3 linked regions of the Homo sapiens genome follow. The protein of the gene in region 1 interacts with the protein of each later gene in a pairwise test. Each region holds a gene or a part of one and is shown on either strand. Other genes may lie near its edges. The genes, in order: SGF29, KIF2C and ITPRID2.

The links.
Region 2: the proteins of SGF29 (region 1) and KIF2C interact in binary tests that used the Homo sapiens proteins (3 or more experiments, as listed by UniProt).
Region 3: the proteins of SGF29 (region 1) and ITPRID2 interact in binary tests that used the Homo sapiens proteins (3 or more experiments, as listed by UniProt).

What each region holds. Positions count from the first base shown.
Region 1 is NC_000016.10:28,584,815-28,588,465, forward strand, and holds part of SGF29 (SAGA-associated factor 29), read left to right. Parts: intron 1-98; coding exon 99-174; intron 175-833; coding exon 834-906; intron 907-3,651. UniProt on the Homo sapiens protein: Chromatin reader component of some histone acetyltransferase (HAT) SAGA-type complexes like the TFTC-HAT, ATAC or STAGA complexes.
Region 2 is NC_000001.11:44,756,736-44,760,386, forward strand, and holds part of KIF2C (kinesin-like protein KIF2C), read left to right. Parts: intron 1-820; coding exon 821-911; intron 912-1,172; coding exon 1,173-1,236; intron 1,237-1,313; coding exon 1,314-1,405; intron 1,406-2,470; coding exon 2,471-2,613; intron 2,614-3,544; coding exon 3,545-3,651. UniProt on the Homo sapiens protein: In complex with KIF18B, constitutes the major microtubule plus-end depolymerizing activity in mitotic cells. Regulates the turnover of microtubules at the kinetochore and functions in chromosome segregation during mitosis.
Region 3 is NC_000002.12:181,926,079-181,929,729, reverse strand, and holds part of ITPRID2 (protein ITPRID2), read right to left. Parts: intron 1,570-3,651; coding exon 1,465-1,569; 3' UTR 1,452-1,464; intron 170-1,451; coding exon of another isoform or gene 74-169; 3' UTR 1-73.

The sequences.
Region 1 (3,651 bases):
AGGGCCGTATTTTGGGGATGGGGACTCTGGCCTGGCTGGCAGGGTACCACAGCAGCACAAAGGGCCACCGTCATGTCCTGCTGCTCTTTTCCTTACAGGAAGAGCGTTCGCGGAGCGAACACAACTTAGTGAACATCCAGAAGACCCATGAGCGGATGCAGACAGAGAACAAGAGTGAGTAGCTGGGCTCAGGAGAGAAAGGGGATGAGATGGGGCTAGGGTGAGTATGGCCAAGACTGTGACCGAGGTGGTCATTGTATTCAAAATAGATTTGCATGTATCTGCATATTCCAAAATGCAGCAGGAGGGACAGCTTTCCGTTAATCTGGGTGACCTGAAGAACTAAAATCCCTCTACTCTGAGGATTCGAAAGGCAGTGAAATGAGGCTGTATCTAGGGAAGCTTGCCCTTAGAGCACACAAGCGCCCCAGTTAGCTGGTGTTTTCTAGAAAGGAGCTTCCTTCCCAGGCGGCCCCTGCATCTGCCCTGAGGCCCTCAGGTGGTGAGATCCTGGGGCTGGGGCTTTCTTACTCTGGGTAACTCTGAGAATTGTGTTTTCCTGGGTCCTGACAAATATTTTCTGTGAGTGTCATGATGGAGAAAAGGTAAGACAGTACTCTCGCAGATGTAGGGATGGCATTTGTACCATATGGAAATGCGGACTCATGGAGCCTGGGGGCATCCGCCTCAGGAGCACTCCTGAGCCAGCAGAGCTCTGACTGCAGCTACGGCCTCTCTGTGCCTCCACGAGTGTGATTCCGGTGCATGGAAGCAGTGCCATGCTACTGTGCCTGCCCTGGCCCTGCCTCCTTATCCCTGTGTTTCCTCTGCAGTTTCTCCCTATTACCGGACAAAGCTGCGTGGCCTCTACACAACCGCCAAGGCCGATGCAGAGGCTGAGTGCAAGTGAGTACCGTGCACCCACTTCATCGCCGCTCCCTCCTTTCCTGGGGGCTGGGCTGCAGGTCCATTTGGACCAAGTCCCCAGCCTGCCTTCCTCCCATGGATAAGCTGATTGCTACTCCCAGCCTCTCGCTTGGGTCCCGCATTCCCTGGCCCACTGCCAGGCCCACTCTTCCAGTTACCTCTGCTGCTAATGCCTTTACAGAAGGTGGCAAGGCGTGAGTCAACACTGCCGTTTACTGGCTCTATGACCTTGGCAGAGTCATTAAAATAGGGATATCAGGGGCTGGGTAGCTCAGATCTGTAATCACAACATTACAGAGGTGATTGGGAGGCCGAGGTTAGAGGATCACTTGAACGCAGGTGTTTGAGACCAGCCTGGGCAACAAAGTGAGACTTTGTCTCTACAAAAAGTTTTTAATTAGCTGAGCGTGGTGGCATGTGTCTGTAAGCTTGGCTGGGAAGTCATACTCAGATGACCTGAAGGTTTTATGGTTCTGAGATGGAGAAGTTTCACTTCCAGAAAACTCCTGCTTTTAAAATAATCTTAAGGCCGGGCAGGCACAGTGGCTCATGCCTGCAATCGCAAGGTGGGTGGATCACCTGAGGTTGGGGGTTTGAGACCAGCCTGGCTAGCATAGCGAAACCCTATATCTACTAAAAATACAAAAATTAGCCAGGTGTGGTGGCGCACGCTACTTGGGAGGCTGAGGCAGGAGGCGGAGGTTGCAGTGAGCTAAGATCGTGCCACTGCACTCCAGCCTGGGCAACAGAGCAAGGCTCTGCCTCAAAAAAAAAAAAAAAACTAAAATAAAAAAATGATCTGGAAACACTGTTTCCTTGAATCTCTGCAGGAGATTCAGGAACTTGAACATTACATTCCTCTACTTTGAGAACACACTGGTTCTGAAGTCTGACTGTGCCCAGAGGCTCTGTTTATTTGGGGTGGAGCTCCAACATTGGTATTAACTATCTGACATTTCCTCACTAGTAGGATTCATGCTTTACACTTTTGGCACAGAAGAGGTGTCTCTGGTGGGTCATATTAGACGGCACAGGATGCTGTCTGTGCCATTGGTTAAAGTGGTATTTTCCACGTTTCTCTTGTATCAGATTACTGCTATTTTCCATTGTGTGATTGATCGATTAAGACAGGGTCTCAGTCTGTCATCCAGGCTGGAGTGGAGTGGCGTAATCATGGCTCACTTCAGCCTCAAACTCCTGGCCTCAAGTGATCCTCCTGCCTCAGCCTCCTGAGTAGCTGGGACAATAGGCACCTGCCACCACTCCACCTAATTTTTGTATTTTTTGTAGAGAGGGGTTTTGCCATGTTGCCCAGGCTGGTCTTGAACTCCTCAGCTCAAGCGATCCACCCACCTTGGCCTCCCAAAGTGCTGGGATTACAGGTGTGAGCCTCTGCACCTGGCCTCCATTGCATAATTAATAAGTGTCTTGGGAGATACTTTTGAGACTGTAACTATCCTGTTCATATCAAACACACTAGTTTTAGCATCCATTTATGATTTGTGCGTGAAACAATTGAGATTTTTTAAACTTCCCCCAGGAGATTCTGATGCCCACCAAGGTTTGAAAGCCACTTCAGTAACATGTCACAGAAGACAGTTTAGGACAGGCTGTATAAAACTGTATCCTCCACACAGGCCTGGCAACAGTGATGAGACTCTCAGAGTTCCCTTTGGCCCCGTGGCTCTTTCTCCTTCTCTGCTTTCTGGGGTCCCGGTGCTCACAGCCTGAGGTGGCACTGGCTGGGCCATCCCTGCATTGTACGCAGCAGGCAAGCTGTTCCTTGTCCCTGCGTTGGTTTGGCTGCCCTTGGCCTACCTCCATCTTCTGGCCCTGGCCTGGTGAGGTCCATGAGTCACATGCCCTGGGGCACCCCCGGACACCTCCCGAGATGCTGCATCACACCCAGTTCCTGTGCATCTCCTTCCTGCCGCACAAAGGTCTTTAGAACTCCGGGTCATTTCAGAAAGGCTTGCCAGAGGAATGGACTGGGGTTTGCCATGGTATCAGAGGAAAATAAAATGACCCAAAGTGGAGTTTGTGCTGCTGACTACTGTGGAAATACGTATTTTTTTTGAAATGGAGTTTCGCTCTGTCACCCAGGCTGGAGTGCAGTGACACAATCTCGGCTCACTGCAAGCTCTGCCCCCAAGGTTCAAGCGATTCTCTTGCCTCAGCCTCCCAAGTAGCTGGGATTATAGACGCCCGCCACCACGCCGGGCTAATTTTTGTATTTTTAGTAGAGAAGGAGTTTCTCTATGTTGGCCAGGCTGGTGTCGATCTCCTGACCTCAAGTGATCCTCCTGCCTCAGCCTCCTAAAGTGCTGAGATTACAGGCGTGAGCCACCACACCCATCCCTGCTGTGGAAATACTCTTTGGGAAGATTCCCTGAGCTTTAGGATGAAGGAGCCTCACTCCAGCCAAGTTCTGTGTTTGCTTCTGCTGGGTTCTTTGGGTTCCTGCCACCCTGGAATCCCCATAAACTAACTTCACAGAGGCTTCCTGGGGCTTCAAGGCCATGCAGGGGTCTGTCTTTGGGTTCAGCCTTTCAGAAAGGATGAGGTCCTTCCACCCAGTTCTGCTCTGGGCCAGCACCTCTCCCCAGAGTCTCCCCTCCTTTTGTGTGACCCTCGGGCAGACCTGAGGCCCCCTCTCCTCATTTCAGGAGGTTCCTGCAGCCTTTCTGCAGGGTTTGCCGAAGGCAGTTTGCCTGTGTCCTTTCC
Region 2 (3,651 bases), on another chromosome or scaffold:
GAAACAGGGTTTCGCCCTGTTGGTCAGGCTGGTCTCAAACTCCTGACCTCAGGTGATCCGCTCGCCTTGGCCTCCCAAAGTGCTGGGATTAAAGGTGTGAGCCACTGCACCTGGCCCCAGATCTGCTCTTTCTAATACAGCACCCAGTACCCTCATAGGGATATTTACTTATTTTATTTTTATTTATTTATTTGTTTTTTGAGACAGAGTCTCAGTCAGTTGCCCAGGCTGGAGTGCAGTGGCGAGATCTCAGCTCACTGCAACCCCCGCCTCCCAGGTTCAAGCAATTCTCCTGCCCCAGCCTCTCAAGTAGCTGGGATTACGGGCACGTGCCACCACACCTGGCTAATTTTTTGTATTTTTATTAGAGACAGTTTCACCATGTTGGTCAGGCTGGTCTCAAACTCCTGAGTTCAGGTGATCCACACACTTCGGCCTCCCAAAGTGCTGGGATTACAGGCGTGAGCCACTGTGCCCAGCCAGTAGTGTCTCTTCTGCTGGAAGCTGGATGCTGAGCTTAGGCTTTTATGCTGTGTCTCCAGGGTCAGAGGAAAGGTCAGATGGCTTAGAGTATGGGCCATCAGCTTGCTTCTGGTTAGTCGGCCCAGTGATCCCCCAACACCCATCCCACTGCCAGTTTGCTAGGAGTATTTCAGATTTGTAAAGTGGGGTTGGGGTCAGGTGGGACCACTGAGGCAGGAGAGGAGTGCTATTCTTAGAAGGAGGAATCGACCCTAGAACTCTGCAGTGGAAGGGTGGCAGGACATGTTCCAGGGAGCACAGTTTGGGAACAGATACAAATACTCTACCCCTCTTCTAGGTTCACAGCAAGGCCACTGGTACAGACAATCTTTGAAGGTGGAAAAGCAACTTGTTTTGCATATGGCCAGACAGGAAGTGGCAAGACACATGTGAGTATTGAGGCCTGGCGGGGAAAGAGCCTTTCCCTTGTGCACCCCTGGCTCCCTATAAAGGGAGACAATGAGTTTGTTGAGAAAGGCCCCTTGTTACAGATGCCCCATCACCAGATAGCCTTGCCATGTCAGATGCAGGGAGGGGCTTTAGGTCCAGCCTTCTGGCTTTGTTGTGGCCCACTGTAGTGAAGGAGCCAGTAGTGCTCTGCTCTAGGCCAACAGCCCTTTTCCATGGTCTTCTACCCCTTCCCTTTGCAGACTATGGGCGGAGACCTCTCTGGGAAAGCCCAGAATGCATCCAAAGGGATCTATGCCATGGCCTGTAAGTACTGTGTACTGCTGCTTCAGGGTTGGGCACAGAAAGGCAGGTTGTTTGCTTAGCAAAGTTCTCTCCCTCAGCCCGGGACGTCTTCCTCCTGAAGAATCAACCCTGCTACCGGAAGTTGGGCCTGGAAGTCTATGTGACATTCTTCGAGATCTACAATGGGAAGGTAGCTGGCAGGAAGCCCCTTGTTTACACTGTTGGGGCCCAGCACTTTTTAAAACCTTGAAGCTGGCTAGAAGTTGAGGCCAAAAACCTATTAGCTGATTAGCTGTCAAGCCACTGATGGGCCATTCTGCCCTGGCATACACATGTAGGTGGTTTAATCTGATGGTGAGATGGCACCTAAGTTCAAGAAGTATGGCAAGAATACTCCTCAGGGCGCCCTTTCAGGTGCAAGGTTTGCCTGTGTGTGTCCTGACCTCCCTCGGCCGACCTCCTTCATCCCTTCTTCCCCGATTGTGCACGTTCAGTCTCATATTCATTCTTTCCCTGCCCGCACCACCATATATCTCTTCCACCCCTCTCTCTATTCACTGTGTGCTTCTGCAGAGTTGCTTTCCTTAGAGTGGGATCTAGATAATAAAAATAGCTAATATTTATCATTAATAAGATATTAGGGGCCAGGCGTGATGGCTCACACCTGTAATCCCAGCACTTTGGGAGGCCGAGGCGGGCAGGTCACCTGAGGTCAGGAGTTTGAGACCAGCCTGGCTAACATGGTGAAACCCCATCTCTACTAAAAACACAAAAAATTAGCTGGGCATGGTTAGGGGCACCTGTAATCCCAGCTACTCGGGAGTCTGAGGCAGGAGAATCGCTTGAATCCAGGAGGCAGAGGTTGCAGTGAGCCGTGATCGCACCATTGCACTCCAGCCTGGGCGATACGAGCGAAACTCCGTCTCAAAATAATAATAATAATAAGATATTAGGAGCTATGCACTATTCTAAGCACTACCTGTCTCACCTTTACAGATGAGATGCAAGGCTAGAGTGGTTATTAACTTGCCCAGGCTCACACAGCTAGTAAGTTACCAGAGTCACAGCAAACTGAGGCAGTTCGGCTCAGATCCCAAGTATATTGACCTCTGCTAGGCTGACATCCATCAGTTCGTATTCTCTGCCTTTCCTGCTGCTGGCTCTTGTCCGAGCTGGGCAGGCTAGTAGGAGGAAGCAGTCGGGTGGGGTGCCGGGTGCCCAGTGGCCTTAGCCTCATTCCCCCTGCCTGGCACAGCTGTTTGACCTGCTCAACAAGAAGGCCAAGCTGCGCGTGCTGGAGGACGGCAAGCAACAGGTGCAAGTGGTGGGGCTGCAGGAGCATCTGGTTAACTCTGCTGATGATGTCATCAAGATGATCGACATGGGCAGCGCCTGCAGGTGAGAGTCCTGGTGAGGGGAAGGAGCGACCTTCTCATGTCTGGTTTATGAGTAAAGTCTAGCTCTGAGCACATTTCTGTTTACCCAGAGTGCTGCTTTGCCCAGTTTGGTAAGGGCTGCGAAGGCCTCTGCTTTACGGGGTCTCAATAAGACATATGACCCCAGGGCCAGAGGCTTATCAGAACCAAGTCAGGTCAGGCACAGTGGCTCACACCTATAATCTCAGCAGTTTGGGAAAATGAAGCAGGAGGATCACTTCAGGCCAGGAGTTAGAGGTTGCAGTGAGCTGTGATCGCACCACTGCACTCCAGTCTGCATGGGCAGAGCAAGATCCTGTCTCAAAAAAATAAAAATAAAAACAAGTCAAAGTGTTACCCCAAAGGCATGCTTCCTGGCTTCTTTGGGTTCTCCTTGCTCTTCCCTCCCTTTGTGGTGGAAGTCGGGAGCTCTGGGTCTGTTCTGGGCTGGAAGTAATGGGTTCATACCCCCTCTGCACAGAATTAGGGGAGCACTTTTCCACTAGGGCTGTAGACATTGGTACAGTGGGGCGCTACGCAGCTATAGAGGCCCAGGGAGGGGGCTGCCCTCTACAGGGTCCTCAAGTTCTGGCAGGTGGTTCATGACAGCTTCCCCCTTCCCTTTGGGCCCTTTAGCAGAGGGAATTTATCCTTCCCCGTGTCCTTCTAGGGCTCCAGGTCTGACAAAGGCCCTAGTCCAGAATCCAGTACTAATTTGGCTGCCAGGAAAATGTATTAGGTCCAGAGCTGGAGGGAGAATTGCTACCCAGGGAGGGCAAGATGGAAGCCTGGGACAGGAAAACAGGACTTTTTCGCCTCCTAACCTGTGTCCCTCCCTTCCTAGAGAACTTCTGTGGACTTGGGTGCCATGGGGGCTGGTGACCACAGAATCTCATAACCTTTCTTTACCACAGAACCTCTGGGCAGACATTTGCCAACTCCAATTCCTCCCGCTCCCACGCGTGCTTCCAAATTATTCTTCGAGCTAAAGGGAGAATGCATGGCAAGTTCTCTTTGGTAG
Region 3 (3,651 bases), on another chromosome or scaffold:
AGTTTCTATGTACGTCTTTTTAAAATATATGGTTGAAGAAATACACATTGTACACTGTATACAGTAGCCCAGCTCAACAGCAAGTATCTTCTAAAGCACAAATAACACCTCCACCAGTGCATATCATTGATAATTCCAGTATTACACAGCTAATAGGATCCATGCCAACCTTAAAAAAGAAAAGAGAAGTCAGTTTTAAACCTCTTTCAAATACTGTTATTAAAAGCTTCTTTAAAGGAAGATGAGAATTTTATGCAAATATATATACACAGAAACATGATTATCCTGTAATCTCTATACATCTTCCTGAGAGTTAATTCTTATATCCCTGGCTTTAAAAAAAATAATTCCTATTAATTGCTTTGTGACATAATTTATTAAAATACTTTCCAATTTCCTATATCTGAAATTGTATATTATACTTTTCAAATTACATTTGTTTCTCATGTCTTATTCAATGAATATTTTTAGTTCTATTCTACTCAACTTATTCTTTCTTTTTGCATTCACCAAGAATTATTATTAATATATATTATATAAAATGAAGTTAGAGCTAAAGCAGGAGGATCGCTTGAGGCTAGGAGTTTAAGACTAGCGTGGGCAACATAGCAAGACCCCATCTCTACAAAAAAATTTTTTAATGTAATTAGAGCTACGAGATAAAATGAAAGTAATTCGTTTTACTAAGACAGACATATAAAAGAGTTTTTTGAAATAAATTATTATTAGAAATGAATCTATGGGATATGTTTCTTTAAAAGATAAAAATAATTAGGAAAGATACTTAGAAGTTGTGATTAATTCGGCCGGGCGCGGTGGCTCACGCCTGTAATCCCAGCACTTTGGGAGGCCGAGGCGGGCGGATCACGAGGTCAGGAGATCGAGACCATCCCGGCTAAAACGGTGAAACCCCGTCTCTACTAAAAAATACAAAAAATTAGCCGGGCGTAGTGGCTGGCGCCTGTAGTCCCAGCTACTTGGGAGGCTGAGGCAGGAGAATGGCGTGAACCCGGGAGGCGGAGCTTGCAGTGAGCCGAGATCCCGCCACTGCACTCCAGCCTGGGCGACAGAGCGAGACTCTGTCTCAAAAAAAAAAAAAAGGAAGTTGTGATTAATTCACAAAATCTTGTTCTTTAAAACTATACATCTGAAATACCATTATAATCAAAATAAGATTCAGGTTTGAAGGTCCAATTCCAGGATTTATTACTATAATGAAATTTCAGTAGAATGACCCAATATAAGTAATTCCTTGGAGATTTGTATTATGGGATTTGACTTACACTTCAAATAGGCTTGTGTGAAATTTTCACATTGTAAAATAACATATTACATACATTCTAAAACTCAAAATTTAACTAGAGAACCAAACCTGTATACTAACAAAACAAAGAATAAAATGCCAGTTACTATTTACATTTAGCTCAACAAAGAAACTCAGAAAAATTTACCTATAATTTCTGTTTAATGATAATCTTGCTTAGAATTAGACGCTTTACTTGAAGATACTGCTGCCAAAAGTCCACTTACAATTTCCCGTCTGATTTCCCCAACAATAGACTCTTTAATCTAGATTGGAAAAACAATAAAACAAAAATTTACCAATATGAATGGAATTCATTTTTTCCTGTTTTTGGAAAAAATACAAATAGCATTCAATTTCTTAATTTCACCTTCATGTGAATCTCCCTGCAATACAGAGAGGGAGTGGGGAATCGAGTCCATCTATCATCCAACCCAGATCAGACTCCCAAGGACTGGTCTAGAATTGTTCAGCTAACTAGATTACAAATATCACAATTCATAAGGTGAGGACATTAGAAAATGTTATTTCATAAGTTAAAAAACTTCTAGTAAATACTTTACCTCATGTCAAAAAAATAATCTGGAAGGACTTCTTAAATGTTTTTAGTATTGTCTAACTTTGTAAGGTAATCAGCAGAGACACAAGTGCTCTCATTGCTGAGAAAATCTTTTAGAGGCAAAATAGTATACAGGTATACTGCCTGTTTATGCCAACTGACAGCAAGGTATCTAAAGACATATTGTTCAACCTAACACATTTAAAATGGGAAGAAGAAATTATCATTTAGTACAATTTATTTTATAATATAAAAAACATCCTCAAAACAACCATAAACTCTAAAGAAATAACTTTTTCTTTAGTTGCATGGTATCACTGCCAGCCATCTAAGCTTTTGTTTCCAATATGCATATAGGATATGAGGATATACATCTCATTTTATTGTTGGAAAAGGCAAACAGACCTGAGGAAATGACAATTCCATCAGGATTTTCTTCTACAGGTGTCCAAACACTTACATATGCCTATCTCCACCTTTTCTCTCTAATGATACAGCATCACTTTTAAATAGCCCTTTGTGAAAGCTATAAATGTGTATTTCCTGAAATAAAGTGATAATGTGTTCCCAAATAAGCACTCAAGATACTCTCAACAAGCTTTTAAAAATTCTACATTTCCAGTTTCCTGTCAGCCAAATTGATTTATTTCCTACAATGTTCCTAAGTACATCTCAAACACATCTTAACTATAATCTTTCCAAAAATGGTCCTGTATTAGTCTATCATGCAAAATTGGTACACAATACATAGATTTATACATAGTTATTTAAAGAAACAAAACACTCCTTAGCTACCAACCATCTGTACTGGAATATATTTAAATACTATAAGCTTTTCACTTTACCTTTTATCAATATTTCTAAACTTTAAACAACATCAGAAGATTCTGAAGCACACAGCACTTCAGATTTACTTTTCAAACAAGTATGTGTTGGATACAAATATTTTAAAAACCAGAATCTCTTAGTCACAGTATATAAACAGAAATACAACATACTGAATTAGGACCACTGCAAATCTATATTCACAACAATGAGTATAGTCTTTCCAGTCCTGCTACCAATGCAATATGGCCATTTTATTATATCTCATTATTCTTCATCACTCAAAAAACAAACTAGCCAAAATGTATTCTCTTTTTTTTTTTTTTTTTTGAGATGGATTCTCACTCTGTCACCCAGGTTGGAGTGCAGCGGTACAATATCGGCTCACTGCAAGCTCCGCCTCCTGGGTTCACGCCATTCTCCTGCTTCAGCCTCCTGAGTAGCTGGGACTACAGGCACCCGCCACCACGCCCGGCTAATTTTTTGTATTTTTAGTAGAGACGGGGTTTCACCATGTTAGCCAAGATGGTCTCGATCTCCTGACCTTGTGATCCACCCGCCTTGGCCTCCCAAAGTGCTGGGATTACAGGCGTGAGCCACCGCGCCCAGTCGCCAAAATGTATTCTTGACAAACCAGGAATGTGTGCCAATCTTTTTTGGGAGTACAGGCATTATTGGAATAAAGTATAAAAGAATCCCTACCATCAAGCATGATATAATCTCAATGGACACAAAATGAATACTGTTTCATAAAATATATTTCTTATTTATTTATTTTTGTGACAGAGTCTTGCTGTGTCATCCAGAGTGGAGTGTAGGGGCGCAATCTCGGCTCACTGCAACCTCTGCCTCCCACGTTCAAGTAATTCTCCTGCCTCAGCCTCCTGCATAGCTGGGATTACCACCACACCTGGCTAATTTTTGTATTTTTAGTAGAGATGGGGTTTCACCATGTTGGCCAGGC